Regions from separate parts of the Homo sapiens genome. Here all the other regions are linked to region 1. The links come from fine-mapping of genetic effects on plasma protein levels. A gene starts in region 1. Each other region holds a variant in brackets. All regions are shown on one strand. Distances are from middle to middle.

Region 1 (8,098 bases):
GCAAGCAGATATCTGCCTCCAGGCACTCCAAGAAGACCTTGTTCCTCCACCTCCTCCATGGGTCTAGGAGAAGAAGAAGGGACAATCTGGCTGCCCCTCAAGGCCTTTGTCTTGGGAAGCAGCTGGCCATTTTCCAGCCAGACGTGACTCTGGGAGGCTGGTGTGACCCCTCAGGACTGGTGGTGAACCATCAGGTCCACATGAGAGCAACACCTGATGGTTGCCATGGCCGCTCTGTCCGGACCACAGCTCTGCCGCTCGAAAAATAAATGAGAGGAAACACAGCCTTGGAAGGAGAAGTTGGGCCATCGGACTCCACGTGTAAGGTGCAGGGCACCTGGCCTGCTCCACTCTCTGCTAGGCACTGTGGGAAACACGCAGTGATGGGTGGTGGCGCTCCCGGTGGCCCAGGAGTACACAGGGTACAGGACCTGGTTAGCCTTCTGCGGTGAGTGCCATGAACAGGAGCAGGCAGCCGGGGAGGGCTAGATGGGAAACGATGGATAGCAGAAGACAAGGAAGACACACATGCAAAAAAGGGGCCACCTCTGCATGGGCGTGGGAGTCACTGCTGCATTGCAGGTCAATGTGGAAGGGACCCAGGCACCTTGCTCACCACATACTCCCTAAAGCCTAGAGCGGTGTTGGCAAGGAGTATGCGCGCAATAAGCAGTTTTCCAAGGACTCTGGTTTTGCTCAGTTGTGGGAGGGCATGGAACATGGTGAGTTTGGGACAATCTGCACCAGTTGCTGTTGTCTGAATCTGGGCAGGGTGGTCCTGGCGGCAGGCGTGTGGTCCGGATGCCATGGGGAGGCAGGCAGTGCACACTGGGCTCCAAGCATGGAGACCTGGGTCCAAATCCGGACCCTGTCACGGATGAACTGGGTAAGTCCCCTACCCTCTGTGGCCCCTGATTTCCTCATCTGTGGATGGGAGAGATGCCAGTATTCCCTACCGGTGCATGAGAACTGATGCACGTGTGGGTGAAGAGTGTGAGGCAAAAGCCTTAAGATGTGGCTGATATTCTTAGCTTGGCAACACAGTTCGAATCCTGATTGGTACTGCCGGGCCATTCTGCCATAGTCCCTGGCTGACACATCAGGCCGCCAAGTTTGGGGACTTCTCTCTGAGTTTCCTGGTGGGATAGAAACTCATCTCTCCACCCAACTCAAGGCTCAGATGAGGGTGGAAACTCACATTTGACAGCTTTCCAAGCCACCGCACCACTTGCTCTCCAAGAGAGGATAAAGTGCATCTGTCATGGCTGCTTGAGCTGCAAGACTGAGCCATCTTACCATTGCTGAGAAGTCAACTTTTGGGGGACCTTGGGGTGGTCACTTGAGTGTCAGCTCTTAAGGCGCCAGTTGTGTTAATTCAGGGCAAAGTTTAGATGCTGGCTGTGAGTTACAGGAGGGCTTGCTGACTGGCACGGATGTGCACATGGGACTGTCAGAAAGGAACTCCACTTGTGCTTGGGGAAAAAGAAGCTGGAACCAGAAAGCCTCCACTCTCTTCTGATAACCAGGCCATGGCCTGTGTCAGCACCCCTAGTCTTCAGGGGTGAAGCTGGCCTTGCTGGTAGGGGCGGGGGCACTCCAAGGACCAAGCACAGCTGGGGCTGGCGCGGAGTCTGGGGTTTGATGGAATTTCTCACTCATTGAAGTCCACAGGGAAAGTAAAGGGCCAGTGGCTGCAGGTTAACCAACGCACAGACACGCACACAGGCACACACACAAACACACACATGCACACAACTCACACACATTTTTGCCTGATCACATATGCCTTATACAAGTTGTAAAACAAAATAAAATCAACAAGGAAACAGGTCAGAACTAACATTTGCTTTACTGAATGTATCTCAAGCACCTCCCCACGTCTGTGTGTGAAGAGCTTCTCATTCTTTTCCTGCGAAATATTTGATATCTATGCAAGCGCATGTGGCAGATATGGAGACTAAAAGCCTCATCACCAAGTTAGCAACAGCGACCTATCACCCAGCTCCGGAGCCTGCCATGGCTATCCTGGCAAACCTAACCTCGGACGCCTCTCTCACCTCCTGTTTCCAGAATGGTGAGAATTAAAGAGCATTTGGGGAATTTCACGCCCAGTCTGGAGATGTAACTGGAGAGGGGAGTCCCAGCCCTGTCTGGCATCTCTGGCTAAATTGTTTGTTCAAAGGGAATGGGGATGGCCCAGGGTTTGCAAATCGTTCTTAATTCATTCTGATTCCCTCCTTTTAAAAAACTAGCCCTGCAGCCCTTGGGGAAGGGGTGTGGGTCAGGCTTCAGGAGGCTGTGCAGGGAGGCCAGGCCTGGGGAAGCTGGAGGGAGAGACGCCCACCTACCACCCAGAGACTGGCGGGCCTCCTGCTGGAGGAGACCCCGAGGGGCTTAAAGAAGCCAGGCAGGAGAATCAGGGCCCCAGCTCTTCTCCGAGAGCAGCCGATCAGGAATGCCTTCTCCCTGCGCCAGCTGTCACTCCCAAGGGGATGCCTTCTTTGGTTTCCTTTTTATTGCAGAGGGGCCACCAGGGAGTGGGCAGGAGTGAGGGGTGAGAGCCTGGGGGCCGCAGAGCCAAACTTCGCCTGATTAATAACCCAGATGTTCCCGTCCAAGCACATGGAGGTCCCGGGAGCTCTTGGGAAGTCAGACCCCAGCTCGGTCCCGTGCCAATCTGCAGTTAGGAGGCAGGTCCTCGGTCCGGGTTGACACGTAGGCCACAGTCTTGGGCGCCCTGATCTGGCTGGATGGGAAGTTTAGTCTCCACCCAGAAGAGGAGCTCTGAACTCCTCCACGTTAAAGAAAAAGTTAGGCGGGGTAAACTGCAACTTTCTTTTTAACCCGAAGTGATCAAACCTCGGGGCCCCTCTGCACTGGTTCTTGGAGCATGGCCAGGTGCGGGCACCTGGGGTGGGAACAGTGGGGGGACCAGGGTGGGCCCCTGGGCTCCGAGGCCGCCCCAGGCCCGCCCGCCTACCGGCTCTCAGAGAAAGAACAGGGGGCCGCGCCCGCCCCACGTCCGCTCCGCCCCGGGCCAGCCCCTTCCTCGCTGCGACTCGCCCGCTGTCCCCACCCCCTCGCCCGCGGCGCCCAGTGGGAGGCGGGGGCTGGCCTCGCCGAGCCCAGCGCCGGGCTCTGATTTGCTGCGGGCGTTGGGGATCGACAGCCTCCGCGGCTGCCTTCCAGGAGAGAGGGAGGGAGGAAAAGGGGGAAAAAAGTGCTCCGCGCCGAAGGCGAGGTCCGCACTCTCCGTCCCCGCGGCTGGCGCAGGACCTCACTCGAGCGGAGCGCCCACGGGGAGCGGGTCGCGGGGCGGCGGCGGCGAGGAGGAGGCGAGAAGGAGTTGGAGGAGGAGGAGGAGGAGGCGAGGGCGAGCTAGCCCAGCGGGGTCCCGGCCGCCCCGCGGGCCAAAGTCGAGCCCTCCCGCCCGTGGGCGAGCGCGCCAGCCGCCCCTTCCAGAACAGCCGCCGCCACAAAGAAGAACGGGGGGTGCCGAGGTCCCCATGACCTCCTAAAGTGGTGCGGTCCCTGCTGAGTGCGCTGCCCGGGCCGTGACCCGCGCCCCTGTGCGTCCCCGCGCGCCTCCGAGCGCCCCTGTGCGCCCCGGCCCGCGCCCCGCCGGCATGGACGTCCATACCCGCTGGAAAGCGCGCAGCGCGCTCCGCCCGGGCGCCCCGCTGCTGCCCCCGCTGCTGCTGCTGCTGCTGTGGGCGCCGCCTCCGAGCCGCGCAGGTAAGGGCGCCCCGGGGCGCGGGGCTGCGGGATGGGGCGCGCGCAGCCCGGGCGCCGCTGTCATCCCCGGGCGCCTTCGCCCGCAGAACTTTTCTTCCTTGGCCTGTGGAATGCACGGGCCAAGACCACGAATGCCATTTGCTGGGGGCCCCCCCGAGATGACGACACGCAGACACAATGCCCGCGGGCGCGCCGCCGCCCCCTCCCCAGACGGGCGGGTCGGGTGGGGCTGTCGCGCGAGCCGAGGAAGGACCGAGGGCTGGATCAGCAGGAGGGGTTGTCCACGAGGCGGGCAAACTTTTGTCCCAAAAACCTTCCTTCTCTGTCCCACATCACAGGCGCCCAGCTTGGGCCCTCACAGCCCTACAGCAGAACTTCCTCTGCTCCAAACCGGGCAGGGCCGCCCCCTAGAGTTACAGCCCTTCAAATCCCGGGACTCCTGGGGATGGGGGGAATCCCAGAAGCCTGGGCCCCCAGCACTGAACTTCCCCCAGGCACTGTCACTCTAGGCTGAGCTGGCGCCCTGCTTTCCCCAGGGACAGCGTTTCCTGCAGCCTTGGTCACCTAAGTGTTCGGGGGCACTGGGGACCCCTGCAGGGTGGTAGACAGCCCTGCTCCTAATCCCACCCCCAAACTTCTTGATCCCTGGAAGGCAGCTTTTCCTGGATTCGCTGCTGAGAGATGGGATGCGTGGAGCAAAGCCAGAGATGGGCTTGCAGGCGGGGCTGTGAGTGGTTGGGATGATATGCAGATGTGGGATTCCTTCTGCCAAGGGTCAGCCCTTAGAAGGAGGCTTGCTTCCCGGGGAGGGCGCTTCAAGGCGGGGACTGTCTGCGTCCCTGCCTGGGTTCTCGAGGGTTCAACTCTCCCTGGCGCAGCTTCCTGACGGGGGAGTTTTTCTAGGCATCGCTCTTGGTAGTTAGTGGCGGGGTGGGTTTTCACAGACTCTCGAACATCAGAGCCCCCAGCCCTGGAAGGTCCCCCGAATCCTTATTGACAGGCGGGGAGATGGAGGCTCAGAGCTGTGTGCTGCCAGGTCAGGAGAAGTGGCGGGCAGAGCGATGGGACGGTGGGCTCAGCGAACGTCTGGACCAGCCCGCCGCCTGCCAGCAAGAATGCTTCTCTCTGCTTCACGATTGGAAGACAAGTGGGAAGAATCATTGTCCGTGTTCCGCTTGTCAATTAAAACACTCTTTTCCTTTTTCCCTGGCACGATCAGTGCTTGTTGGGCTAACTGGATGAGCTGGAGTCTGGGTGTGGGGGCTGCCCTGGGGCTCTGGGGGAGGAGCCAGGAGCCTGGCCTGGCTCCCAGGACCTGGGATCTCATCCCTGGGCCGCCACCAACTCTCTCCTGACCCTGGGCTAACTGGGCTTGTGTTTCTCCAGGGGTTAGCTGAAGGTGGGGGACAACAGAGGTCCCCAGAAAAGTGGAGAGGAGAAGGAAGGTGTGGTCAGGGACTGTGCCATTGCCGGGGGACTAGGCCCTGTCTCAGCGCCTCTGGGGACTTTTCCCCAGAAACTCAGGAGGGAGTCCTTCAGGGGAATCGTCACCCTAGACAGCTGGGGCAGGGCACTGCCTGGGGACCATGCACCGGACTGGGCTTGGGGTTCCATTTCCCTCCCTGCCCATCTCCCCACCTCCACACTGTCTTTTTCCCTCTCTGGTTGCCCTCGCTAATCGAAGTGCGGCTCGTTGGAAGTGGGAGTGAGGATGGCCCAGAGCAGCAGGCTATGGAGTTGGACATTTTGCTTTTGTCAGAACAGACTTTTAGAAGCATGTGGAGAGACCACTTTTCTTAGTGAGTTTTGCCAACGTCTCTCCACCTCCCAGGGTGGGACCTATTTGGAAGTCATCCTTCGAGCATGGCCAGAGGGGGCGGCTGTCCACTGGAGATGCAGGCGCTGGGGGGAGGGGGCGGCTGTCCACTGGAGATGCAGGCGTGGCGGGGAGGGGGCGGCTGTCCACTGGAGATGCAGGCGCTGGGGGGAGGGGGCGGCTGTCCACTGGAGATGCAGGCACTGGGGGAAGGGGGCGGCTGTCCACTGGAGATGCAGGCGCTGGGGGGAGGGGGCGGCTGTCCACTGGAGATGCAGGCGCTGGGGGGAGGGGGCGGCTGTCCACTGGAGATGCAGGCGCTGGGGGGAGGGGGCGGCTGTCCACTGGAGATGCAGGCGTGGCGGGGAGGGGGCGGCTGTCCACTGGAGATGCAGGCGCTGGGGGGAGGGGGCGGCTGTCCACTGGAAATGCAGGCGTGGCGGGGAGGGGGCGGCTGTCCACTGGAGAGGCAGGCGCGGGGGGGAGCCACCAGCAAGTGCCTGCTGTCTTCTCCATCTTCGGATCTGCCAGATGTTTTCTGAGGGTTTTCTGAACACAGTTCTTTTGCCTGCTTTCTTTTGGCCAAGTGTGTGAAGGAATGAAAAGTAAGATTGCATTTGGGGCTGCTGAACAGTGTAACGGGGAAGGAGAGTATGGGAAATGAAACATGACCCCAATATTTGGAAATTGAGGTCATCTCCTCTACACGCCATTGGTTGACTCCAGTCACGTGATTGCTTTTTGCAATAATTTGTGGGGAGAGTCGGCCAAGTTTTGTGAGACTTGACAGGTATCAAATGGTTAAATTTCCTCTGACTCAATCAAGTTGGCTGGAAAGACATCCTTTTCCATCCTCTGCCCCCTCCCTCCCTCTCCCCATAAAAGAGCAGTGAGTGGGAGGAGCTCAGAAGCCCCAAGAATTCCCCAAGCCCTCTCCCTGCTGTGGTCCAGATTTGCCGGAGGGGTTGGAGTTTTGGTTGCTACCCAGGGCTGTGCCCACCCAGCAGTGCGGCAGCCCCAGGCAGGGGCGTGCTCCCAGTGCCAGGCTCACAGTGGTTTCTCCAGTGATGTTACTCCTGGGCTGCTCCTGCGGGGCTGGCCAGAGCCTGCTCTTCACCCCGCCCTGCAGATATTTCTGGACTCCCCACCGCCACGCCTCAGCCGAACACAGCTGGTGCTGCCCGTCCCGCCCTGCCTTCTCGCTGCCTGGCCTGTCTGCCTGCCCTGCCTCCTCCCTGGACCGCCCCATCCCACCTCCTGGGAGATAGACCTTGATAGGTGGAGTAGGGGCTGTGCAGAGCAGTGAGCTGCCCCGCTGGAGGGCGAGGATGAGTCCCCAACACTTCCCGAGGGCACCCACATAGGAGCCTGAGCCAAGCTGCATCTGGAACAGTGCAGGACCTGTCCCTGCTCGGTCACGTGACGTGGCTCTGGGAATGGCCTTGGGAGACAATCACACATGGGAATGGAGGGGCTGGCACTTGCCTGGCCTGTGGTGAGCATCAGCTGCACCATCTCACTGCACCCTCACCCGGGCCTGAGAAGGGACAGAGCCTAGGAGTCAGGGGGCAGGGATGCCAGGCAGATGTCTTCCATTCCTGCTGTGGGGCCCTAAGCCAGCAACGGCCCTTCGCCTGGCATGGTCACTCTTTGACTTGTCACAGTTCCCTCTTCTCACTTCCCATCGGTTTATCAGCTCTCCCCGGGGAGAAGGCCAGGGCCCTGAGCTATAGTCCTGGCCTGGGGGCCCAGTCCAAACAGGGTCCTGGGAGCAGAGCCATTCCATTTGGCCAACACAGCTTTTAAGTTCCTTTCTTTCTCCTTCCCCCTCCATCCTTCCCTCCTTCCTTCTTTCCTCCCTCTCTTCCTCCCTCCCTCTCTCCCATCCCCTTCCTTCCTTCCCTTTGTCCCTCCATCCCTTCTCTTTTTACTCCAGTGCCTTCAAGAGGGATGCAGCAGCCACAGTCTCCACCACTTCCCAGGCCTCTCTGCACATCAGCATAACCTGCCTGGACCCTGAAGGCTTTTGCCTTTTCACCTGGGTCGGGCCTATCTTGGGGAGACCGAGGCAAATGGGATGGGACCCCTCGTTTCCTTCCAGGAGCTCACAGTCTGACAGGCAGACCATTGTGAATTTTACTCAGGGCCCTCCATGGGATGTGCTGGGTCTTGCATCCGACAGTCTGGGAGGGTTAATTGCACTGGGGAGAGCTGGGGAGCTTCCTGGAGGAGGTGATGTGAAACTGGCCTTCCCTCCTTCTCTTCTCCTTCCTTTTATTGCAGAAATGACCCTCCTTCGTGGGGTCCTCCTCCACCTCTGGCTTTAATCTTGCTCTCTTCCCTCCTTCTGACAGGACATTCCACACCGTGTCCCAGAGCTCTCCTGGGCGGCTCCCTTGGCTGGAAAGCCCCTCATTCACGGGCTTGGCAGGTGCTCCCAGTATCTGTTTGCCAGGAGAATACAAGTGCCCCTAAGGGAAGTGGCAGATCCTGGCAGCTTCCTTAACCCTTTCTCTGCCCCCGTTCCTCCTGTTTCCCTTTGACGAG
Region 2 (8,098 bases), 170 kb before region 1:
GCCAGTCTGGGACCTAGGTGGCCAGTTAGTTCTGGGTTTGCAGCCTCGGCTCCTGGAGACCCCGCTGTAGGCAGAGCTCCTGTTCTGTGCTGGAAGTTTGAGTCCTTTGTGGAGGACACAGTGGGGGAGATGGAGGATGGTTTATGATGCTCTGTGCCCCTCCTGGGCAAGGGGATGCCAGGGCTGGTGAGCACATGGGGTAGGAGCTGAGGCATTGTGGGGGTCCTGGCCATGTCTCTCACTTGTGAGGACCTGACACTCACCGGGGCCAGCTCTTGTGGATGACATCGGTGTCATGAGCTCTGATGGGACATCATGGGGCTTCCTGGATAGGAAGGGAGTCCTGCCGGCCTCTTGGGGGTAGAGCCGGCAGCCTCTGCCTCTCCTGGAGGCCCCGGTGTCATGCCTCAGCTCTTCCCCACACCTCTGCGCTGCTCACCCAGCCGCCCCCTCCCATTAGTGCCCACTCTGCACCACACGCGCCTCTGCCCGGCTCACCCAGCCGCCCCCCCATTAGTGCCCACTCTGCACCACACGCGCCTCTGCCCCGCTCACCCAGCCTCCCCCCCATTAGTGCCCACTCTGCACCACACGCGCCTCTGCCCCGCTCACCCAGCCTCCCCCCCATTAGTGCCCACTCTGCACCACACGCGCCTCTGCCCGGCTCACCCAGCCTCCCCCCCATTAGTGCCCACTCTGCACCACACGCACCTCTGCCCCGCTCACCCAGCCGCCCCCTCATTAGTGCCCACTCTGCACCACACGCGCCTCTGCCCCGCTCACCCAGCCTCCCCCCCATTAGTGCCCACTCTGCGCCACACGCGCCTCTGCCCCGCTCACCCAGCCGCCCCCTCATTAGTGCCCACTCTGCACCACACGCGCCTCTGCCCCGCTCACCCAGCCGCCCCCTCATTAGTGCCCACTCTGCACCACACGCGCCTCTGCCCGGCTCACCCAGCCTCCCCCCCATTAGTGCCCACTCTGCACCACACGCGCCTCTGCCCCGCTCACCCAGCCTCCCCCCCATTAGTGCCCACTCTGCACCACACGCGCCTCTGCCCGGCTCACCCAGCCGCCCCCCCATTAGTGCCCACTCTGCACCACACGCGCCTCTGCCCCGCTCACCCAGCCTCCCCCCCATTAGTGCCCACTCTGCACCACACGCGCCTCTGCCCCGCTCACCCAGCCTCCCCCCCATTAGTGCCCACTCTGCACCACACGCGCCTCTGCCCGGCTCACCCAGCCGCCCCCCCATTAGTGCCCACTCTGCACCACACGCGCCTCTGCCCCGCTCACCCAGCCTCCCCCCCATTAGTGCCCACTCTGCACCACACGCGCCTCTGCCCCGCTCACCCAGCCTCCCCCCCATTAGTGCCCACTCTGCACCACACGCGCCTCTGCCCGGCTCACCCAGCCGCCCCCCCATTAGTGCCCACTCTGCACCACACGCGCCTCTGCCCCGCTCACCCAGCCTCCCCCCCATTAGTGCCCACTCTGCACCACACGCGCCTCTGCCCGGCTCACCCAGCCGCCCCCCCATTAGTGCCCACTCTGCACCACACGCGCCTCTGCCCCGCTCACCCAGCCTCCCCCCCATTAGTGCCCACTCTGCACCACACGCGCCTCTGCCCCGCTCACCCAGCCTCCCCCCCATTAGTGCCCACTCTGCACCACACGCGCCTCTGCCCGGCTCACCCAGCCGCCCCCCCATTAGTGCCCACTCTGCACCACACGCACCTCTGCCCCGCTCACCCAGCCGCCCCCTCATTAGTGCCCACTCTGCGCCACACGCGCCTCTGCCCGGCTCACCCAGCCTCCCCCCCATTAGTGCCCACTCTGCGCCACACGCGCCTCTGCCCCGCTCACCCAGCCGCCCCCTCATTAGTGCCCACTCTGCACCACACGCGCCTCTGCCCCGCTCACCCAGCCGCCCCCTCATTAGTGCCCACTCTGCGCCACACGCGCCTCTGCCCGGCTCACCCAGCCTCCCCCCCATTAGTGCCCACTCTGCACCACACGCGCCTCTGCCCCGCTCACCCAGCCTCCCCCCCATTAGTGCCCACTCTGCACCACACGCGCCTCTGCCCGGCTCACCCAGCCGCCCCCCCATTAGTGCCCACTCTGCACCACACGCGCCTCTGCCCGGCTCACCCAGCCTCCCCCCCATTAGTGCCCACTCTGCACCACACGCGCCTCTGCCCCGCTCACCCAGCCTCCCCCCCATTAGTGCCCACTCTGCACCACACGCGCCTCTGCCCGGCTCACCCAGCCGCCCCCCCATTAGTGCCCACTCTGCACCACACGCGCCTCTGCCCCGCTCACCCAGCCTCCCCCCCATTAGTGCCCACTCTGCACCACACGCGCCTCTGCCCCGCTCACCCAGCCTCCCCCCCATTAGTGCCCACTCTGCGCCACACGCGCCTCTGCCCCGCTCACCCAGCCGCCCCCTCATTAGTGCCCACTCTGCACCACACGCGCCTCTGCCCCGCTCACCCAGCCGCCCCCTCATTAGTGCCCACTCTGCGCCACACGCGCCTCTGCCCCGCTCACCCAGCCGCCCCCTCATTAGTGCCCACTCTGCGCCACACGCGCCTCTGCCCCGCTCACCCAGCCGCCCCCTCATTAGTGCCCACTCTGCGCCACACGCGCCTCTGCCCCGCTCACCCAGCCGCCCCCTCATTAGTGCCCACTCTGCGCCACACGCGCCTCTGCCCCGCTCAGCCAGCCGCCCCCTCATTAGTGCCCACTCTGCGCCACACGCGCCTCTGCCCCGCTCACCCAGCCGCCCCCTCATTAGTGCCCACTCTGCGCCACACGCGCCTCTGCCCCGCTCACCCAGCCGCCCCCTCATTAGTGCCCACTCTGCACCATACGCGCCTCTGCCCCGCTCACCCAGCCGCCCCTCCATTAGTGCCCACTCTGTGCCACATGTGCCACTGCCCATGTCCCTTGCTTCAGTTCCAATGGGCCTACTGGCCTCGGATCCCTTGTCCACTCCAGGTCTGCACTTGGGAGATGGGGTCACCTGGTGCTGGGCCCCTGAAGTATGCCGATGACCTGGGCCCTGCAGAAGTGTCCAGCTTGGGGAGGCGGGAAGCAAAGCAGAGCTCCGGGGTGGCCTTTGATTTTCTACTTCCCCCAGCCCCATTCCAGGGACCCCTCCACCCTGCTACACCCACCTGCATGCAGGGACATGAGCCGAGAGCCCAGAGGGGACCCGTGAGAAGGGAGGGAGGAAAGTGAGAAGACTCCGGTACCAGCAGCCTGGAGTTACACTGGGACAACCAGACGCTCCAGGGTGCATCAGCAGAGGACGACCCTGTCCCTGAGCAGCTCCCAGGCGGCTCTGCCATCCTGGAGGCCCCTGGGGCGCTGTCCTATCAGCACCAAGCAGCTGTGCTCCCAAACTCTGGGGCGTGCAGCCTCAGGGCAAGGTGGCTTTGGGTGGCTGATGGTGCCCCCTCAGGGACTCTGAGCAGGTCTGAATCTTTCTGAGCCCTTGTTTCTTTAGGTACAAAGCAGAGATGCTTACCTGCCAGATGGAAGGTCTGGGGGAGGGGAAGGGACTTCAGAACACGCCGCTGGGGCATAAAATTATTTTGTGCAGGAGGCATTTGAGTTTCAGAAACCCCTTATCTGAATAAAAGCAGAGCCCCCCAAAAGAACTAGAAATAACTCAACTGCTGTACATCCCTCCCTGGAGTGGCCAGGGAAGATGGACTCTTATCATAGTCAGTGACGAGAAACCTCCATAGCACACGGATACGGGCGTGGTCCCAGAGCCA[C/T]GCTACCCCAAATCTGTCCACCTCAGGGCCCATTTACCTTTCCAAAAAGCCATTCGTTTTCCTGTGTGTGCCCTTCTCCTTCTCCCCTGATTTTTGTGTACCTCTAAGAGGATATGTAAGCCCCAGATTCTAACCACTCCTCTGAATCCCATTTTCCTGTGGTCTCCCATGTACATTTCTACATGAAAACATTTTTTTCCTCTTCCTAATCTGCCTCTTGTCAGTTTAATTTGCAGGACACAGTGGCATCATCAGAGATGGCAGAGCTCTTTCACTCCATGGGAACTGCTCTTGGAGCCCCTGGCCCCTTGAGGGGACCTGAGACTCGGGGAGGAGGGAGGTCTGCTTATGTCAGGGTGGGGCTGGGCTGACCTGTCTCCATGCACATCAGGCAGCCTGGGTCCTGTCTCAGCCTGGCCAGCATGATCGACTCCTATTCCCACGTCCGAGCCCTTTGCAGGTATTACCTCCTTTCCAGAAGGGGCTGCTGCCTTTTGTTGCTCTTCCTAAATCAGGTCCTGGGCCAGGTAGTTTAGGAGCAATGAGGTCCTTAATGTTTATGGCCCCGTGCCCTCCTTCACAGGTGGGGGAGCTGAGGGTTTAGAGGGATGGCGCGACTTCCCCCGAGTGCCCCAGCAGGATATGAGGCCAGGCTGCTACATCCATCCCAGGACCCTAGGGCCCTGCAGGCGGAGGCTGGGACCTCTGCACCCACCTCAAAGGCCTGTCCATTTGCAGGGCGGGACTGCCCACGAGGCTGGGCCTGATCCAGCTCCAGACACCAACCCCATGGAATCCCAGTTCCACCTGGGGCAGCCTGTGATGAGCAGGTCACCTCACCTCTCCAAGCCTTGGTTTTATGTCTGTAAAGTAGAGGCAATGTTATCCCTCGCTGCACAGGGTTGATGCAACGGGGCAAGAAATAAGGTGGGGGAGACAGGCTGCCTGCGTTCCCCCCAACACGCATGCTCCCTCAGGAACCCGATGCCTGTGCAGCCTTGCCAGGCTAGCACGGGGACCTGCCTCTCAGAGGCAAGACCCAGAATGCACCCATAGTATGGCCACTTGATCTGGGACCCTGGCAACCTCCTCCCCTGTCTCTGGGCCTCAGTTTCTCCCCCTGCACCACGGGGGGCTACGCTAGTTGACTGGAGCCCCTTCTTGGCCCAGTTTGTGCAGAGCATGAAACCAGTCACCCGGGTGTCCTGCTGGCCTCCCAGACCATGCGATGCTGCTGGTTAGCAACCACAGAAACAAACGCATCAAGAGGCATTCCTTGGCTTTAAAAAGAGGCCGTTTGAAGAGGCAGGCCGGCCTCCCCCGCCCGGTGTGCCCGGCATCTGGGAGGGGCAGGGCTGGGAAGGTGATGAGTGCATGGCAGCCAGACCTTGGCTGGCCGGAGGAGGCCGGCGGGCTGGGGCCCTGGCTTTGGTCAGGCTTGTTTTATGTCAGGGTGACTTGGGCCGTGGAGGAGCCGCCGTCTTGCCAAAACAATGTTTAAAACATCTCGGAAAATGTGCAGCCACTTCTTTTCCACGGGATTCATGCCGAGTCTTCCTGGCTTGTTGGGGAGGGTTGAGGACTGGCCAGGAGGGAGTGAAGAGGGCGGCCACAGGAAAAAGAGTGAGAGACTTTAGACTGAGGCAGGGGCCTGTCCCTGCCCTGCCTGCCCTCCCTGTCTCTTCTCTCCCTGTCCCCCACCCCTCACCACCCACCCCAGGAAGTCAAAACTCTGTCTCTGTTTCTCTCGCCACCCCAGGCCACCCTAGGAAGTGGGCACTAAACCCATTTCACAGATGGGCAGCCACAGTGCTGGGGTAGGAAATGAGGATTCTGACCCACCCAGCGTGGGGGCTGGGAGCTGGATCGGCTACAGAATGTGTAGAGCCTCTGCAAAGAGAAAACAGAGGTCCCACATTCCAGATGGAAATAACTAAGAATTTTAAGAGGGCAACAACAAAGCATTAAACCAACTACAAGACCCTCCTGAGCCTGGGTTCTCACGAGCCGGGGTCCTCCTGAGCCTGGGTCCTCCTAAGCCTGGGATCCTCCTGAGCCTGGGTCCTCCTGAGCCTGGGGCCCTCCTAAGTCAGGGTCCTCCTGAGCCTGGATCCTCCTGAGCCTGGGTTCCTCCTGAGCCTGGGTCCTTCCATGTCAGGGTCCTCCTGAACTGGGGTCCTCCTGAGCCTGGGTCCTCCTGAGCATGGGTCCTCCTGAGCCTGGGTCCTCCTGAGCATGGGTCCTCCTGAGCCTGGGAACTTCTGAGCCTCGGGTCTTCCTGAGTCAGGGTCCTTCTGATCCTGGGTCCTCCTAAGTCTGGGGTCCTCCTGAGCCTGGGTCCTCCTGAGCCTGGGGCCCTCCTGAGCCTGGGGTCCTCCTGAGCCTGAGTCCTCCTGAGCCTGGGGTCCTCCTGAGCCTGGGTCCTCCTGAGCATGGGTCCTCCTGAGCCTGGGAACTTCTGAGCCTGGGGTCTTCCTGAGTCAGGGTCCTTCTGATCCTGGGTCCTCCTAAGTCTGGGGTCCTCCTGAGCCTGTGTCCTCCTGAGCCTGGGGCCCTCCTGAGCCTGGGGTCCTCCTGAGCCTGAGTCCTCCTGAGCCTGGGGTCCTCCTGAGCCTGGGTCCTCCTGAGCCTGGGGTCCTCCTGAGTCAGGGTCCTCCTGAGTTGGGGTCCTCCTGAGCCTGGGACCCTCCTAAGTCAGAGTCCTCCTGAGCCTGGGTCCTTCTGTGTCAGGGTCCTCCTGAACTGGGGTCCTCCTGAGCCTGGCAACTCCTGAGCCTGGGTCCTCCTGAAGCTGGGCCCTCCTGAATCAGGGTCCTCCTGAGTTGGGGTCTTTCTGAGCCTGGGTCCCTCCTGAGCCCAGGTCCTCCTGAGCCTGGGACCCTCCTGAGTAAGGGTCCTCCTGAGCCTCAGTCCTTCTGTGTCAGGGTCCTCCTGAACTGGAGTCCTCCAGAGCCTGGAAACTCCTGAGCCTGGGCCCTCCTGAGTCAGGGTCCTCCTGAGCCTGGGACCTCCTGAGCCTGGGAACTCCTGAACCTGGGGTCCTCCTGAGTCAGGGTCCTCCTGAGTTGGGGTCCTCTTGAGCCTGGGGTTCTCCTGAGCCTGGGACCCTCCTAAGTGAGAGTCCTCCTGAGCCTGGGTCCTTCCATGTCAGGGTCCTCCTGAACTGGGGTCCTCCTGAGCCTGGGTCCTCCTGAGCATGGGTCCTTCTGAGCCTGGAAACTTCTGAGCCTGGGGTCTTCCTGAGTCAGGGTCCTTCTGATCCTGGGTCCTCCTAAGTCTGGGGTCCTCCTGAGCCTGGGTCCTCCTGAGCCTGGGGCCCTCCTGAGTCAGGGTCCTCCTGAGCCTGGGTCCTCCTGAACCTGGGGTCCTCCTGAGCCTGGGTCCTCCTGAGCCTGGGCCCTCCTAAGTCAGGATCCTCCTGAGCCTGGGTCCTCCTGAGCCTGGGTCCTCCTGAAGCTGAGTCCTCCTGAGTCAGGGTCCTCCTGAGTTGGGGTCCTCCTGAGCCTGGGTCCTCCTAAGCCTGGGAACTCCTAAACCTGGGTCATCCTGAGCCTGGTAACTCCTGAGCCTGGGGTCCTCCTGAGCCCGGGGCCCTCCTGAGTCTGGGGTCCTCCTGAGCCTGGGGTCCTCCTGAGCCTGAGGCCCTCCTAAGTCGGGGTCCTCCTGAGCCTGTGTCCTCCTGAACCTGAGGCCCTCCTAAGTCAGGGTCCTCCTGAGCCTGTGTCCTCCTGAGCCTGTGGCCCTCCTGAACCTGGGTCCTACTGAGCCTGGGTCCTCCTGATCCTGGGATCCTCCTGAGCCTGAGTCCTCCTGAGCCTGGGGTCCTCCTGAGCCTGGGTCCTCCTGAGTCGGGGTCCTCCTGAGCCTGGGATCCTCTTCAGCCTGGGACCCTCCTGAACCTGAATAGTCCTGAGCTTGGCTCTTCCTGAGCCTGGAATCCTCCTGAGCCTGGGGCCCTCCTGAGTTGGGGCCCTCCTGAGTTGGGGGTCCTCCTGAGCCTGGGTCTTCCTGAGCCTCGGTCCTTCTGAGTCATGGTCCTCCTGAGCTAGGGTCCTCCTGAGCCTGGGTCCTCCTAAGCTTGGGTCCTCCTGAGTCAGGGTCCTCCTGAGCCTGGGGTCCTCCTGAGCCTGGGGTCCTCCTGAGCCTGGGACCCTCCTGAGTCAGGGTCCTCCTGAGCCTGGGTCCTTCTGAGTCAAGGTCCTCCTGAGCTGGGGTGCTCCTGAGCCTTGGTCCTCCTGAGCCTGGGTCTTTCTGAGCCTGGGACCTTCCTGAGCCTGGGTCCTCCTGAGCCTGGGTCCTCCTGAGCCTGGGTC
Region 3 (8,098 bases), 39 kb before region 1:
GAGAGAAGAGACACAGAGACAGAGAGACACAGAGACAGAGAAGAGAGAGACACACAGAGAGACATAGAGAAAGAGAAACACAGAGAGACACAGAGACAGAGAAAAGAGAGAGACACACAGAAAGACACAGAGACAGAGACACACACAGAGACAGACAGACATATAGAGACAGAGACACACACAGAGACAGAGAGAAGAGAGAGACAGAGAGAGACACACAGAGACAGAGACACACCCACAGGGACAGAGAGAAGAGAGAGACACACAGAGACACACACAGAGACAGAGAGAAGAGACAGACACACACAGAGACAGACACACAGAAAAAGAGAGACATACAGAGACAGAGAAAAGAGAGACACATAGAGAGACACACAGAGACAGAGAGACACACAGAGACAGAGAGGAGAGAGAGATACCCACACAGACAGCAAGACATATAGAGATGGAGAGAAGATAGAGACACAGAGACAGACATACAGAGACAGATACTGAGAGAGACACAGACAGACAGACACACACAGACAGAAGAGACACACAGAGAGAGGAGAGAGAGGAGACAGAGACACAGAGGGAGAGACAGAGAGAAAAGAGAAGGAGGAGAGAAGCAGGGAATGAGAGAAGAGAGACAGGGTGAAAGGGGATGAGGCAGGAAGGAAGAGGGAGGGAGAGAGAGAAAGAGAAGAGAAGGAGATGGAAGAAAAGAGAGAGAATATAAAGATAAAATCCCAGCTGCCCTGGACGGGGTGGGCTGGGGATTCCACGCCCCATTCCATGGGGCTTTGCACTTGAAACCAGACTCTCCCACCTGAGTTCTGTTGCATCTGGAGCTTCAGATAAAACAAGATCACTTCTTAAGGATCACAAGGACCTGGGGATTTAGAAAATTGGATGATCCCACTTTTGCCAGGTTGCAACATTCTTCCTTTTCAAAGGAGTGTCCGTGAGTGATCTCCAGAGTAAGGTCCCCAACCTACATCAAGTAAAGGGAAATGAGAAGAAAAAATTCACACGGGCCGGGCGTGGTGGTGCCTGTCTGCAGTCCCAGCTGCTGGGGAGGCCAAGGAGGATCGCTTGAGCCCAGGAGTTCAAGACCAGCCTGGACAACATAGCGAGACCCAGTCTATAAAAAACAAAAAAAAAAAAAAGAAAAAGAAAAAAAGAAACCCACACGGGCAATGGAGAAGTAAACAGGATCATGGTCCCTGTTCTGCTGGCCAGGCCAGGCCAGGCCGTATTCTCAGCTGTCCCTCCCTGAAGCTCCTCCTTTGGGTGCACACGCTGCCCCTGAGCCACTTCAAGGAGTATCACTTCCTACTCTACCTGGTGGCCTGGAGCAGAAAGAGCCCCATCACCCGCCCTCTGGCTTTTCCAGCTTCCCATAGTTAACTGTCAGCGACCATGGAGCGCCCAGGGCAGAGTCCCCAGGCCCTGCATTTGCTGCTGTTTGCGTACACCGGGGTGTGCTGCTGGCTGTGGGGTCAGGGTCTCCTTGTCCCCCATGTGGACCCTGGGAGGGAATGAGCTGTCATTCCTACTTCTCACCAGTGCCCACCTCCCTCAGCTTCTGGGCAGGGGGCAGCACCTCCTCCCTCCTTGAAGTGGAGCATGGTCATTTGACTTGCTCCTGCAAATGAAGCCACCATTTTACTTCTGAGCAGAGGCACTGAGAGAAGTCCTCTGTTCCCACGGCCATGGACGATATTCCCAGGGGGTGGAGGCTCCAGCAGCCAGGACCACAGAGTGAAGGTGTCCAGAGGTACAGGACAGGCCCCTGACCCTCAAGGTACAAGGAGCAAGAAATACTTCCTTCTTGTTTTAAACCATGTAGATGCCAGGGGATGCTTGTTTCCCAGCATAACCATGCCTGAGCTAGCAGATACAGGAAGGAAGTATTATCTCCCTAAAGAAATGAGTGAAGTGACAACTGAAGGCCACAAACCCACTTCGTGACAGGACAGAGTTGGAGTCCAGGTTTTCAGGCCCAGGCAGGACCCTGGATCCTATGGAGAAACTTGGCTGAGCTGCACTCATTTCTTATGGGAAACACGAAAACCTCATTCTTAGGGTTCACGTCCTCCTGAGAGGGAGAGAAAGTTCATTTACAAAGGAGCAGAATCAGCTTGGTCCCAAGATCTCTCTGCAGCATGAAATGAAATGCCACTGGAGCAACAACACTCCAGCACACACTGAAGGATAGAGAACGTGACTCTAAATTCCATGCCCAGCGAGCTGCCTGCAGTGGGTGATGGCCGCAGAAGGGCGTGCTCTCAGCGGCAGCACACCCTTCTGGAAAAATATCCCTGAGGGGTGCACTCCAGCTGTGCCAGAGAGCAAGATGTGAAGACTTGCAAAAGGAGGCCATGGGGTGAGAGGTGGTGGTGATGAATGACTTCCATGTGAAGTCTTGCAAATTTGCTTATAAAGTGGAAAAATGCATATATGTCCTCAGCAGGTCACGTGGGAGGAGAGCCTAATGGTGGACATTTCTAGAGTCGATGCAGGTCCTGTGGTTTATGCTGTTTAATGCTCTGGGACCTGGGGTGGAGGGGGGACTCCTTTGCTCTGTTGGGCCTCAATTTCTCTGTTTATAAAAAAAAAGTGGCCTTTGGTCTCTCTAAGTTCTCTGTCGCCAGATGACTGGGGGGTCCTTCCACTATTTGGTAATAAGACTCCCCCCCCACCAACTCCCAGCTCCTGGTGTCTCACCAACATTCTGGATGTTTGGGGTGATGGTAAAAGGGTTTGTGTGCCTGCTGAGGAACAGTTTTATTCTGGGGACTTGGGGACACTCGTAGAAATTGTTTGAGGCCCCTTAGAGAATTGTAGAACCAGGATGCAGAGGCTGTGTTTGTGGTTTGAGCTGGTCAACTGGAGGAATCCAGGTTTCTGGGAACGTTGACCAGTGACTAAGTCCCATCCTTAGCTTGATGGCCCCCACCCCCACCCTGTCCCCAGATAGTGCCTATGGGGAAGCCTCGGGAAGGAACACTGCCCTTCCCCCTGCCCCGACACCACATCTGGGATGAGCCCCAAACCTCAGTTGGCTTTGATGCTGCAACTTTTTCCAAACCCTGAGCATGATTCACAGCCCAGACCGGCAGTGGAATTTCTGCAAACAGAGCCGGGGGCTCCGTCTGCGCTCTTGAGAGGTCCGCAGCTCCCACCTTCGGAATGGCCCGAGAAAGAGACTGGGAACGCGCGAGCCACATTCTTCCTGGATGAAACACTGGCCTTATCAGGAGGAAGTAATGACAAATGGCCTGAGCAGCTCCCAGCCAGGGGGCTGGCTCTTCTTAAATTTGCTTAGATGGATTTTCTTTGATGAGCCCAGC[A/G]ATTATGGGAACCCGCAGGCCTGCTCAAGGCCTGCATCATTGCCATTTCCTGACAAAGACTGGATCATCCGTCCTTCCCATCACCGCCCCTTTCTTCTTGGAGGAAAAGCCTGCTGGTGTGGTGCGAGGATGGCGGGTGTTCCACCCTGCCCTGGGCCACCAACACCACGGCCAGGGCGGCCCCCCTGCAAGCACCGAGGGGGTCAGCTCCGTGTTCTGGCAGAGCCAGGAGAGAAACGAGGAACTCTTGTCTGGTTAATTGCTATGTGTATATATGACGATAAAGGCATGTCGGCCGGGCGCGGTGGCTCATGCCTGTGATTCCAGCACTTTGGGAGGCCGAGGCGGGCGGATCACAAGGTCAGAGATGGAGACCATCCTGGCCAACATGATGAAACCCCGTCTCTACTAAAAACAATACAAAAAATTAGCCGGGTGTGGTGGCGGGCGCCTGTAGTCCCAGCTACTAGGGAGGCTGAGGCAGGAGAATGGCGTGAACCCAGGAGGTGGAGCTTGCAGTGAGCCGAGACCACGCCACTGCACTCCAGCCTGGGCGACAGACTGAGACTCTGTTTCAAAAAAAAAAAAAAAAAAAAAAAAAAAGACATGTCGTGTTATCTGGTGCCTTTCACCTGGCAGGCAGGGCATCGTGGGCCAGCGCAAGGGCACCACACTCTGGCCCAGAGCACAGCGAGGCTACAGAGAAGCAGTGGCCTCCTCGGGCCTCCAGCGCCCAGGGAACAACAAGGCCACCATTGTAAAGGGTACAGAAGGTCAACTTTCCAAGTCTAGGCACAGAGGGCCACAGGGAGAGAGACCCAGAAGGGATGAGATGGGGGGAATGTCCTTGTGGGAATGTGAGTGTGGCTGGGATTCTGCTGAGCGCACAAAGGCAGACACAACGCAGTGGACTTGAACGGGCATCCCCCAGTGATAAAAGCCGTTGTCCCCCAAGTGATGTTCCTTGAGGTTAGACGGAGCCAGCCTCATGTTATAGGCCTGATATAGACCTGGGGCACAGTGGACACTGGATGGGTGTTTGAATGCATGAAGAAGTAAAAAGAAGAAAAAAGGAAAGAAAGAGAAAAAAAGAAAGAATGAAAGAAAGAAAAGAAGGAAGGAAGGAGAGAGAAAGGAAGGAAGGAAGGAAAGAAAGAAAAAAAGAAAGAGAGAGAGAAAGAAACAAAGGTAGGGAGGGAGGGAGGGAGGGGAAAGAACGGAAAAGGGAGGGAAAAATAAGAAGGGAAAGGGAGGGGAAGAAAAGAAGGTGGGGGAGAATTTTCACTGGCAATGTGGTTCCCTCTCTCTCCTTCTCCATAGCTCCCTCCCCTCATGGCCTTCTTGGTGTTCCCAAGCTCCCACTCTGGGTCCCGGAGCCTTAGAAGGTTTGAGCTGTGCTGATACTCATTCTGGATACACACCGAGTGGAAGCGATTCTCACTGGAAATTAGGAGGAACAATTGCCCAGCACGTCACAGCTTGCAGAGCCTCTTCGACTATCAGCATTTTATTAGGGCGCCCCTCAAACAGCCCTCTGAGGGAGGCTTTTCCCTACCTTCATTCCACCAAAGACTCCACGTTGTAGAAACAGGTTAGATGAACTGTGCAGGGCTAAGCTATCTCTAGGAGCGAGAATTTAGATGGGGTTTGTCTTGGAATTCAAATTCCATTCATGCACAATTTCAGTTCCATTCTCAAATCCAATCTCTCTCTCTCTCCCTCACACAAACTACACTGGACTCCTCTGTGTGTGCCCGTGGTGTGATCACAGCGAATGCTGCTCCAGTGTGCCAGTCTCTGCCGATCGACAATCAGCTGCAGTTAGGAACTCGCTTTGTCACTTCACGTTACATGGTGAACATTTTCCCTGCAGCTAAACAGTCCTCAAAGCCTGTTTATTTTTTTTCCTTTATTAGATCAGATGTGGGTGAGACCAAAGGTACGATTCATCTTGAGGCAGATTTCCCTCCAGCTGTGAGCCTGTGAAATCAAGCACGTTATGCTTCCAAAATTCAATGGTGGGACAAGTGTAGCACAGACACTCCCATTCCAAAAGAGATAACTGGTGAAGAAGACAGGATAACAGGCCCCAAGCACGCCCGAAACCCAGTGAGGCAGACTAGTCTTAGACTCAAGAATAATCGTTCAGGCCGGGCGCGGTGGCTCATGCCTGTAATCCCAGCGCTTTGGGAGGCCGCGGCAGGCCGATCACAAGGTCAGGAGATTGAGACCATCCTGGCTAACACAGTGAAACCTCATCTCTACTAAAAATACAAAAATTAGCCAGGTGTAGTGGCGGGCACCTGTAGTCCCAGCTACTCGGGAGGCTGAGGCAGGAGAACGGCGTGAACCTGGGAAGTGGAGCTTACAATGAGCCGAGATCGCACCACTGCACTCCAGCCTGGGCGACAGAGTGAGACTCCATCTCAAAAATAATAATAATGATAATCATTCCACCTTCCGCACACACTGGGGCAGGGACTGGGCTGCAAGGCTCCTCCGGCACCGCCCCTGAGACATTGCTGGGTGGCGTCTGTAACTCTCTTGGACTGAAATCACAAGCCAGTGGCTCTACTGGTCTGGGATGGAGAGGGAGCCCTGGCCCCACAGCTTGGCTCCCGCAGGCATTACCGCTATGGGCCTCTCTGTGGGGCCCAGCCCCTGAAGTCATGCCCTGTCTATGTTGTGGGTCGTGAACCTGTGTCTCCAGCTGGCTCCATCTTTAGAAATCTAGCTGGAGGCAGCCACAGCTCTGTAGCTCATGCACTGTGCAAACTGGCAAAGATAGCACCATGCAGACACAGCAAAGGTTCACCCCTAGGTCCCCAGAGAGCAGGGCCAGTGTGGCCTGTGCCAGGTCTGGGCCCAGTGGATTCTAAGCTAGAGTGGCCCCTTTTGAATCATCTTGGCCCCCAGGCCCTGGCATTCTGGGCCTGTGATGGGAGGGGCAGCTCCAGAACCTCTGAAAGTCTTCGGTCCACTCTTCCATTGTCTTAGACAACAGCTCCTGGCTTCAGTGTAGATGGAACTGTCTCCTTCTCAGATGGGAATGCAGCCACGCCTTGAGTGTCTTCTCCTGAATACACTTTCTCATTCTTTTCAATGAGGATAGACTAAGAATTTTCCGAAGTTAAAGTTTTGCTTCCTTTTTGATTACAAATTCCACCTGTCTAAAGTATTCCTCTCTTCTGGCATTTTACTCCAAGCATTGAGAGAAGCCAGGCTTCACTCTTGACACTGCTTAGCAATTTCTTCTGCCAAATATCCTGTTTCATTGCATACAAGTTCCACCTTCCAGAGAACACCCAGACGCGACACAATTCAGCCAAGTTCTTTGCCACTCGGTAACAAGGATGGCCTTTCCTCCAGTTTCCAATAAGTGCTCCTCATTTCCATCTGAGACCTCACAATCATGGCCTCTCCCGTCCGCATCCCCACCAATCTTCTATTCACAGCCACTTAGGTCATCTCCAAGAAGACTGAGGCTTTCTCTCCTGCTCTCCTTCCGAGCCCTCACCAGAATCATTCCCGACAGTCAGTTCACAGTGATGTGGGCTTTTCCTAGCACACACCTCAAAACTTTTCCAGCCTCTACCCATTATCCAGCTCTGAAGCTGCATCCACATGTCCAGGGGTTTGTTATACCAACAGCCCACTTCTCAGCACCTATTTTCCATCATAGTCTGCTGGGTCTGCTATAACAAAATACCCTAAGTCAGGTCACTTGAAAAAAAACAGGGGCTGGGCACAGTGGCTCATGCCTGTAATCCCAGTACTTTGGGAGGCCCAGGCAGGTGGATCACTTGAGGTGAGGAGTTTGAGACCAGCCTGGCCAACATGGTGAGACCCTGTCTCTACTAAAAGCACAAAAATTAGCCAGGTGTTGTGGCACGCACCTATAATCCCAGCTACTTGGGAGGCTGAGGCAGGAGAATCACTTGAACCTGGAAGGCAGAGGTTGCAGTGAGCTGAGATCGCACCACTGCACTCCAGCCTGGGTGACAGAGCAAGACTCCATCTCAAAACAAACAAACAAAAAAAACCAGGAATTCATTTCTCACAGTTCTGGAGGCAACAGATTTGGTGTTAGGTGAGGACCTGTCTCCTGGTTTACAGAAGGTGCTGATGCAAGGCAGGTGAGCCCCAAATTGGGGCTTAACCCACAAGAGTTCTTGGCTTTGCGCAGGAAAGAATTCAAGGGTGAGAGGACAGTGTTGAATAGCAACTTGTATTGAAGCAGCCATGCACACAGCAGCCGAGGTCCTGCTCCTTGCAGAGCAGGGCTACCCCATAGGCAGTGAGCCCAGAGTAGCAGCTCAGAGGCAGGGCTGCAGGCATATTTATACCCATTTTAATTATATGCAAATCAAGGAGCCGATTATGCAGAAATTTCTAGGAAAAGAGTGGTAACTTTCAAGTGGTCAGATGGTTGCCATGGCAATGGTAAACTGACAATGGCGCATTGGTGGGTGGGTGTGTCTTATGGAAAGCTCCCTCCTCTCCATTCCTGTTTTATTTAGCTTGTCCTCATTTCCTCTGGTGTCTGAGCCCCACCTCCTGAATCAAGCCCCGCCTCCTGAATCCAGCCCCACCTCCTGAATCGAACCCCACCTCCTGAATGGAGCCCTGCCTCCTGAATCAAGCTCCGCCTCCTGTCTCAGCACCTTCCTGCTGAATCCTCACATTGTGAAAAAGGACAGAGTAGCAGCCGGGTGTGGTGGCTCACGCCTGTAATTCCAGCACTTTGGGAGGCCGAGACAGGT
Region 4 (8,098 bases), 190 kb before region 1:
GCGACTATGAATTCTAATGAGTTGAACCCCACTGGGACACAACTAAGTTGTCCCCAGAGACTGCAGGAAGCCTCAGGAGGGTGCCTTCTGAGGTCAAAGGAAGACAGAGGGGAGAAAGTGGCATGCCTGGGGCCTGCTTGTGGTGCCTGGCCTTGAGGCTGGTGGATGCCTGCATCTGGAGCTGGAGCCCTTGGTCCCAGATAAGCATGTGAGGAATCAAGTCATGGGGAAGGCAGTGAGTGTGGGAGGTGGTGGTGGGGTTGCTGATTTGGACAGCATGGCAGGTGGGGCCTCCACGGGAAGCCGACCTGTCCTAGTCCACTTGGGCTGGGTGGCTCACAGACAGCAGCTTATTGCTCATGGTCCTGGAGGCTGGAAGTCCAAGATCAAGGCACCTGCGGATTTGGTATCTGGCAAGGGCCCATTGCTGGTTCAGAGCTGGCTGCTTCTGTCTGCATCCTCACATGGCAGAAGTGAGCAAGGCAGTTCTCAGAGACTTCTTTTATAAGGGTGCTCATCCCACTCATGAGGGCAGAGCCTCCCAGAGGTCCCATCTCCCAACATCATCATCTTGGAGGTTAGGATTTCAATGCATGACTTTTGTTGAGACACAGATATTCTGTCTATAGCACAACTACACAGCAATACAGGGAAAGGCATCCCAGGCTGGGGGAACAGCATATACGAAGGCTCAGAGGCAGGAGAGAACTGAGGTGTGCAAAGAGTAACACAGAGACACATGGGGAGAGAGGCTGGTGATGAGGCGGGGACCATTGGGGCTGAGGGTTCTCCATGTTGCCCAGGCAGACATGTGCTGGAATTGCTGGATGTATCGCCCAGACATCCAGCAATTCCAGTGCTTCTTCTCAATCCCCCTTCGAATGCCTCTTTCACCTTTCACAAACGTTTCCTCCTGCTCAGGAGGCTTGCCTGGCCTGTGTCTTTGCTCCCTCCTTCCCTTCCCTCTCTCCCTCCATCCCTTCCTCTGCCTTATAGACTCCTCCCTGAGAAGAAGGCCAGCTCCCAGTCTTCCCAGTCTTCCCCTCCCTCAGGCCCAATCCAGCCTGAGCACGGTCTGGATTTAGTCTTTAGGCTTGGTCAAGAGTGTGTTTGCAAACCTCTTCACTCCTTGCTGGCTAGAGCTTCCCATCTTCTTAACCAGGTCCCCTGAGACTCCAAGGCAGGCACCCACTGGGGCTGATCACATGAATAAATTGGGTGTAGTTCCAAGAGGTGGGAACTGTGGTTTTGTAAATTTCACAAGTTGTCTGCATTTCACAAGTGCACAGGTGTACCATGGTGAATCAGAGGCTCCAAGGCAAGGCTCATGGTGTTTAGCCCTGTGCATACACCACCTCATCTCCCTACCCATCTATTCACCCACCCACCCATCCATCCATCCACCTACCCATCTACCTACCCACCCACCAATCCATTCATCCATCCATCCATCCATCTACCCGCTTACCAATTTATCCATCCATCCATCTATTCATCCATCCATCCATCTACCCATCTATTCACCCATCCACCCATCCATTCACCCATCCATCCATCTACCCACCCACCAATCCATCCATCCATCCATCCATCCATCCATCCATCCATCCATCCATGCATCCATCCATCCGCTTACCAATCCATCCATCCATCCATCCATCCATCCATCCATCCATCCACATCCACCTACCCACCCACCAATCCATCCATCCATCCATCCATCCATCCATCCATCCATCCATCCACATACCCTCATCCACCCATCCACCCATTCACTCACCCAGTCATCCATCCATCCATCCATCCATCCATCCACACACCCATCCATCCACCCAACCACCCATTCACTCACCCAGTCATCCATCCATCCATTCATCCATCCATCCACCCACCCACCCAGTCACCCATCTGTCTACTTATCCATTCACCCAGTCACCTATCTATCCACCCAGCCAACCCACCCATCTATTCATCCATCCATCCACCCTCCCATCCATCCACTCATCCACCCACCCACCCAGAATTCATCCATCCACCTATTCATTCAGCAAATACAGACTGGAAATTGCATGGATTAGGTCCTGTACTTGGCTCCAGGAGAGAGCAGAGTTTGCAGAGTCTGTTCAACAGAAATCCAATGTGAGCCATATATGTAATTAATTTAAAATTTCCTAGTAGCCACACTAAAACCAGGTGAAATAAGTGTAATATTTTATTTAACCCGATACATAAACAATATTATAATTTCCACATGCAATCAATATAACAATTATTGAGATATTTTACATTCATATTTTGGTGGCAAGTCTTTGAGATTTGGTGTTTATCTTAGCCTTATAGCACATCTCAATTTGTACAGGTCACATTTCAGGCTCTCGAAACCACATGTGGCAAGTGGCTTGTGCATTGGACAGTGCAGGTCTAGAATATTCTCATGGTGTTGCATGTGGGCAGCAAATGTGGGCTGATCTGTGCCATGAGGAGGCCATAATCAAGGTGCGATGGGAATATGGAGGAGAGGCAACCATGGGTAGAGGAGGCTGAATGGCTTCCCAGAGGAGGCAGCACTGGAGCAGGGCACTGACGGATGAACAGGAGTTCTTCAGGTGCGAAATAGGGAAAAGAAAATCTCCCAATTCCCTGGTGCCCCAAGTAGGGCTCATGAAGGTCCAGGTCAGCTTGAAGAAACCAAGGGCCTTTAATGACCTCCCCACCAGGTGCTCCTTATAGACCCATGGTTCAAATCATCTTATTCCTGCCCCCTGGGCCAGTGTTGACGTTTCCCCATCTTATAGTGACGAACACTGGGGCCTGGAGGTCCAGCTGCTTACAGCCACGGTTTTCAGAGCATCTACCATGAGCTAGAGCTCCACCCCAGATGGTGGGGTTGGAAGTACAAGGAGAAAAGGAGGTGTGGAATAAGGCTCCTTGCTCTGAGCCCGTAAGCTCCCTCTGGGTGGGGGCTCTGTGGGTTGGTGCTGGGAGACTCGCTGTCCCGCTGACCTGCCTTCTCCCATAGATGGTGGCCCTTGAGACCACATGGAACCAATTTCCCAATTAAGCTAATTGGAAGAATCATGGCATGCCTTTCTGGTTATCGGCCTGGGAGGGCAGAATGGTGCCTGCGTGCCGAAGAGTCCATAAACGTTGAGCTATGCTGGCCAGACCATTGGACGGTATCACCTGGTCCAACCACTGTTTATGAGGACTTCCCGAGATCACTGAGGCTTTTAGGCTACTGTGCGTGTGCCTGTGAACTTCCAGGCCCTGTACCTGCATGTTATAGGAGGAAGTGCTGGGGTGGGGGGCTGTGGAGGGGCTCCTGAAACTTGTCTATAACCAGGCATGGCCATCTGGCTCTCACTTGGGTGGACTTTCTTAGGTCTAACTGCAATCTCTCTTGCTGCTGACTCAACATGCCCCCTCCCCCTCCCGAGTGGTTGGGGCCCCAGGTGAGCACTGGCCGGCGGGGCTGCTCACGATTGCTATCCAAGACCAGCCTGGAAAGCTGCCATTTTCATTAAAACCCTTAGACATGAATCTTCCAAAATGTTTCTATGAAGAATCCAAAGGAACCCGTGTCAGGGACATCCTTAGCTGGATGGGCAGCCTGGGAGCGGCGGCATGGGAGCAGCAGCATGGGAGCGGCCGGCCTGGGACAAGCTCCGTGTGACCACAGGCTCATCCTTTCTGCTCACTCGAGGTCTCGGCTTTCCCTTTTGTGGAAAGAGGGAGTTGTTCTGGAATCCACACCCTATGGTCCGTGTGATTTGGTGGGGGCAGCAAGGAGGCCTCCCCCTCCCCTAACACTGCCTCCCTGCTGCCCGGGATCACAGCCGCTGGGCTCCGTCCTGAGGGTTTAGCACTGCCCTCCCCTTTCTCAGATGCTTGCTGCACATTTCAGGGTGGAAAGGGCCCGACCTCATTCTTTCTGGGAGTCCGAAGAGGTTTGAGCAGGGCCCAGCACGTGGCCACTGCAAAGAGCGCTTGCTCTCAAAACCCAAGCTCCACCTTAGTTCAAGAGAGACGCCGATACTTCCCAGGAGGCAGCCACCACCAGGCCCCCAGTTCTAGGGCCCCCGTCAAGGCATGGGCCAGGCCCCATTTGTCTCCTCCACTGCTGAAGAGGCGGGGCCAGGGGTGACAGGAGCAAGCTGCATGAGATCAGGGTGGGGTTCTGGCACCATCCCAGGCTGGCTCTGTGACCTGGGCACGTCATAACCCCTCTTCCTGCCTCCATCCCACATCATCTGTAAAATGGAGGTGACGCCAGCTGCCCTGGCTCCCACTGGACTGTAATTTTGTCTGTGGTTTTCTCCGCCTCCTCCCCTCTCCTGCCTCAGTCGGGACTCATTCAAGCTGATCACCTCCCAGTGGGGTGCTGGTGGGTTCTGGTCACTGTGCAGGAAAGGGTTAACTCAGCAGGCCTGAGTTGTCCACACCCTGCACATTCCAAAGAAAGGTCTGGCTCTGGCCTAGCTCCTGGGAGGTGACCTCTGACCTCTAGCCACTTGAAATATACTGCGTGATAAGTGTCTGTGTTTGCTTGGGGGTCTTGGGCCACCCTAGTGACCGCGCTAATGATGTCATTTACAGTGGGACCTTGGGCTGTGCTGTATCGGCTCATCATCCTGGGGATGAGACCAAGGCCAAGCACACGGGCAGTGAGGCATGTCTTTGCGATGGACCCCCAGTAGGAACCCTGAGCCCCGAGGCGTGGCTGGGCCCCCCTGGCTGGTGCACACCATTCTGGGAGAATTGAGC[AT/A]CGTCTGCCCGACTCTACTGAGAGAAGACCCCTGGGTGCTGGAGTCTGGTCTCCCCTAAACCCTGCCCTCTAGAGATGCCCAGTTTGCTGGTTCGAGGCTATGTCCTTTCACGGCGCTAAACCCTGACCTCGGGTATCGCTGCCTGGCTGAGTTCTGTGAGCCAGTCCAGCACGTCCCTGAGCCTGAGGGTGGTTTGGGGACCCTGAACTGCAGTGTCAGCATTTCCATGGATGGGTTCTGAAGGCAGGTGATGAGGAGGTGTCAGCCTGGGTTGACTACGAACTTTCAAGTCCTATTTCTGAAACAGCCCTTGGAAGGTTCGGGGGCCATTTTACCCCCTCTAGACATTTTGCTGAGCCTTTGCCTGGCCTTGACACCTGTCTCCACCTGTCCACGTTCCCAGCTCTGCCCACCAGGGACTGTGCCTACACCCAGGGATGGCCTAGGTCAGAGAGGGACAGGCTGTGGACTGAGGTCAGGCGTGAGCCAGCCCTGCCTGCCCCCTACAGTTGGGAATCCTCTGGGCGAGGGAGGCAGACAGGACAGAGGGATGCCGCAGGGGAAACCTACAGGTGTCCCCTTTCCCTGGAAATGGCGGACCTCCTTCTCCAGAGACCCTCACGTGCGTCTCTCTCAGGGACGCCTTGGGCCCCCACGGCGTTTGTGCCCAGCTGCCAGGCCTCTGATAAAGCCGCTTCCTCGCCTCGGCCCCCCTTCCCTGCCTGTGCCTCAGGAAACCCTGGGCCTCCTTCAAGGCCCTTCCCCTGTAAGCCCCTCCGTGTCGGGCTCTGCTGTGTCTTCCGAGACCACACCTGTCCTAGGTGCCTGGGTCCAGGTGAGGCGCTCCCTGCTGCCAGCAGTGGACAGAGACTGGTTTTAATTAAAGCTCCCAGCAACCACCCCTATCGCCGTGGAAACAGAGGTTCCGGTGGAGACGTGGCTCCCAGGCCACACGTGTAAGTAGCGCAGCTGGGAGTGGCGCCCGGAGCAGCCCGAACCCAAAGGCTGATCTTGACCGAGGTGCCCTGCTCCTTCCCGGCCGCGGTCTCCACTCGGCCCACTGCTGGGCCAGGGCCGCAGCGGCCGGAAGGGGCTGTCCCTCATGCACCGTGGCCCTCCGGCCTTGTCTCTCAGCGCCCAGACCCCAGGCACAAGGAGGCAGGGGGCTGGGACCTGCCTGGAGCCTGCTGCCCCAGCTGCTGACGTGGTCGCCCCCGCCCACCCTGTAGACGTGGCCGCCCCCACCCTGCCACGTCGCCACTTCCACCCTGCAGGCAGGAAGCTGCACGCTCTCGCTCTCTTTGTGTAACTTTTGGAGGGTTGTAGTTGCAGGAAACATCTGGATGTGGCCCAAGGAACATAATAAAAAAAAAAGGGAGAGCCGCGGGGAGAAGGCAGGGCTGGGGGAGGTTTGCAAAAGCCATCTGATTTCACTTTGCAAAGACAACTGCAATTATGCCTCTGAGGGTTTGCAGTCACTTCACATTCTAGCCATGCGGTGACGTCAGTGGGAAACTATGAAGCTCGCGGACTGCGTGGTGACACACACCCCACGAAACATGGCTCGGGCCAGCTGCCGGCCATGCTCCAGCCCGACAGCCCACCAACAGGGGTCTCTCCCAGAAGGAGGGAAGCTGTAGCTGGGAGAGGGGGTCCCTAACTTTGGACATGCTGGGTTGTCCCCAATCGCCCTCCGAGCTCCAGCTGTGCCTTCCCCTGCTCAGCCTGCATCTACCCCATCTGACCCCACAGGCTCCTGGACAGAAATGGCCCGGCCTTGCCTAGAGCTAAGCTTCCACTCCAAGGCAGAGCTATGGGGGTCCGGGCTGGCAGGGGGGCCATGGCCAGGCCCTCAGGGCTCCCTGCTTTCCAATGGCCCCAGGATCAGCGGTTTCCACAGTGTCCTGTAGCATGCGGCTGGGTGTCTCCATCGTCCCAGCATCCTGTGGGGTGGGCCGAGGGTCTGTGTCCCTCTATGTCCCGTGGGGTGGACCCCGGGTCTGTGTCCCCCTGTGTCCTGTAGGGTATGGCTGGGGTCTGAGTACCTCTGTGTCCTGTTGGGTGGAGCTGGGGTCTGTGTCCCTCTATGTCCTGTGGGGTGGGGCCGTGGTCTGTGTCCCCCTGTGTCCTGTCAGCTGGGGCTGGGGTCTGTGTCCCTCTGTGTCCTGTGTGGTGGGGCCGGGGTCTGTGTCCCCCTGTGTCCTGTCTGGTGGAGCTGGGGTCTGTGTCCCTCTGTGTCCTGTGTGGTGGGGCCAGTGTCTGTGTCCCCCTGTGTCCTGTCGGGTGGAGCCGGGGTCTGTGTCCATCTGTGTCCTGTGTGGTGGGGCCGGGGTCTGTGTCCATCTGTGTCCTGTGGGGTGGGCCGGGGTCTGTGTCCCTCTGGGTCCTGTGGGGTGGGGCCGGGGTCTGTGTCCCCCTGTGTCCTGTGTGGTGGGGCTGGGGTCTGTGTCCCCCTGTGTCCTGTCGGGTGGAGCTGGGGTCTGTGTCCCTCTGTGTCCTGTGGGGTGGGGCCAGTGTCTGTGTCCCCCTGTGTCCTGTGGGGTGGGGCCGGGGTCTGTGTCCCTCTGTGTCCTGTGGGGTGGGGCCGGGGTCTGTGTCTCTCACAGTGTCCCCAGCTTCTGGTCACTATCTCTGTCCCTCCTGCCCTGGGGTCATCCTGAGCTGGGTCCTGCCTGCCCTGAAATCTCAGGAGCTGGGGTGGTTCTCTCTGCTGCTTCTCTGCCCAAGAGTCCAAGGGCTTCCCAGGGACAGTGCTGCACCCTGATGGAGCCCAGGCCTCTGGGCGAAGGACACAGCCTCTCCCAGACCTGCCCCAGACCCCTGAGGCTTTTTAGTGCAAGGGGACCCCCAGGGCAGGAAGGGTTTGCCTGCCACGTGGCAAGTACTTCTGCCTTGAGGCCGTCACAGACAGGGTCTCTGGACTGTGGTGTAGTGTCCTGTCATCTCCAGGTGTAGTCTCAGAAACGCCTTGAAATGAAGCCTGAAGGGGAAGCCCAGTTCCATGGTGTGGACGAGCGTGTCTGCCGGAGGCCTCGGAGTCGCATCCACCGGTGTTTATTGACAGCTGACTGGTGCTGTGCCCTGAGACCCAGGCCCTGCCCTCTGGCACTCAGTCTACCAGGGGCCAAGGCCTGCACCCTCCCTCTGGGCTCACCTTGGTCAAGCCTCTGGTGGACTTTTAAGGCCCACGGGGAACCCCCCCACAGACCCCCTTCCCACTCTGCAGGTGGGCCGCTGAGGCCTCTGCAGACGGGCCTGAGCAGCAGGGCCTGTGCTTGTCGAGGCCCCATGGCTCCCGCCATGGCCAGGGTGAGATGCAGAGGGCCACGGAG

Alleles and levels. Positions count from the first base shown, and alleles are read on the strand shown. Strength reflects both the effect of a copy and how common the allele is.
For the plasma level of the protein whose gene starts at base 3,242 in region 1, allele T in region 2 goes with a higher level than allele C (moderate association).
With allele G in place of A in region 3, the plasma level of the protein whose gene starts at base 3,242 in region 1 is lower (weak association).
As copies of A replace AT in region 4, the plasma level of the protein whose gene starts at base 3,242 in region 1 goes up (weak association).

Evidence for each region. PIP is the chance, under the fine-mapping model, that this variant and not a neighbour inherited with it causes the effect. The UK Biobank Pharma Proteomics Project read protein levels with antibody pairs (Olink). The fine-mapping took linkage between variants from a reference panel, not from the people measured, so its PIPs are less certain.
Region 2: its variant is fine-mapped to the plasma level of the COL5A1 protein (UK Biobank, PIP above 0.99).
Region 3: its variant is fine-mapped to the plasma level of the COL5A1 protein (UK Biobank, PIP above 0.99).
Region 4: its variant is fine-mapped to the plasma level of the COL5A1 protein (UK Biobank, PIP above 0.99).

The regions. Positions count from the first base shown.
Region 1 is chr9:134,638,562-134,646,659 of GRCh38, forward strand. It overlaps COL5A1 (collagen type V alpha 1 chain), which reads left to right and starts at 3,242. Exons shown (of 66, transcript NM_000093.5): 1 at 3,242-3,735. The coding sequence starts at 3,627. RefSeq lists enhancers at 4,221-4,927, 6,183-6,767.
Region 2 is chr9:134,464,058-134,472,155 of GRCh38, forward strand. All of the region lies in intron 1 of LOC105376311 (a long non-coding RNA gene), which reads left to right. Among named protein-coding and RNA genes, the nearest start is that of MIR4669, 89 kb to the left of the region's middle. The variant C/T (reference allele first, on the strand shown) is at 3,786.
Region 3 is chr9:134,599,606-134,607,703 of GRCh38, forward strand. No RefSeq gene overlaps it. Among named protein-coding and RNA genes, the nearest start is that of COL5A1, 38 kb to the right of the region's middle. RefSeq lists enhancers at 2,704-3,616, 3,617-4,528. The variant A/G (reference allele first, on the strand shown) is at 3,336.
Region 4 is chr9:134,450,358-134,458,455 of GRCh38, forward strand. All of the region lies in intron 1 of LOC105376311 (a long non-coding RNA gene), which reads left to right. Among named protein-coding and RNA genes, the nearest start is that of MIR4669, 75 kb to the left of the region's middle. RefSeq lists enhancers at 3,992-4,827, 5,171-6,108, 6,109-7,045. The variant AT/A (reference allele first, on the strand shown) is at 4,765.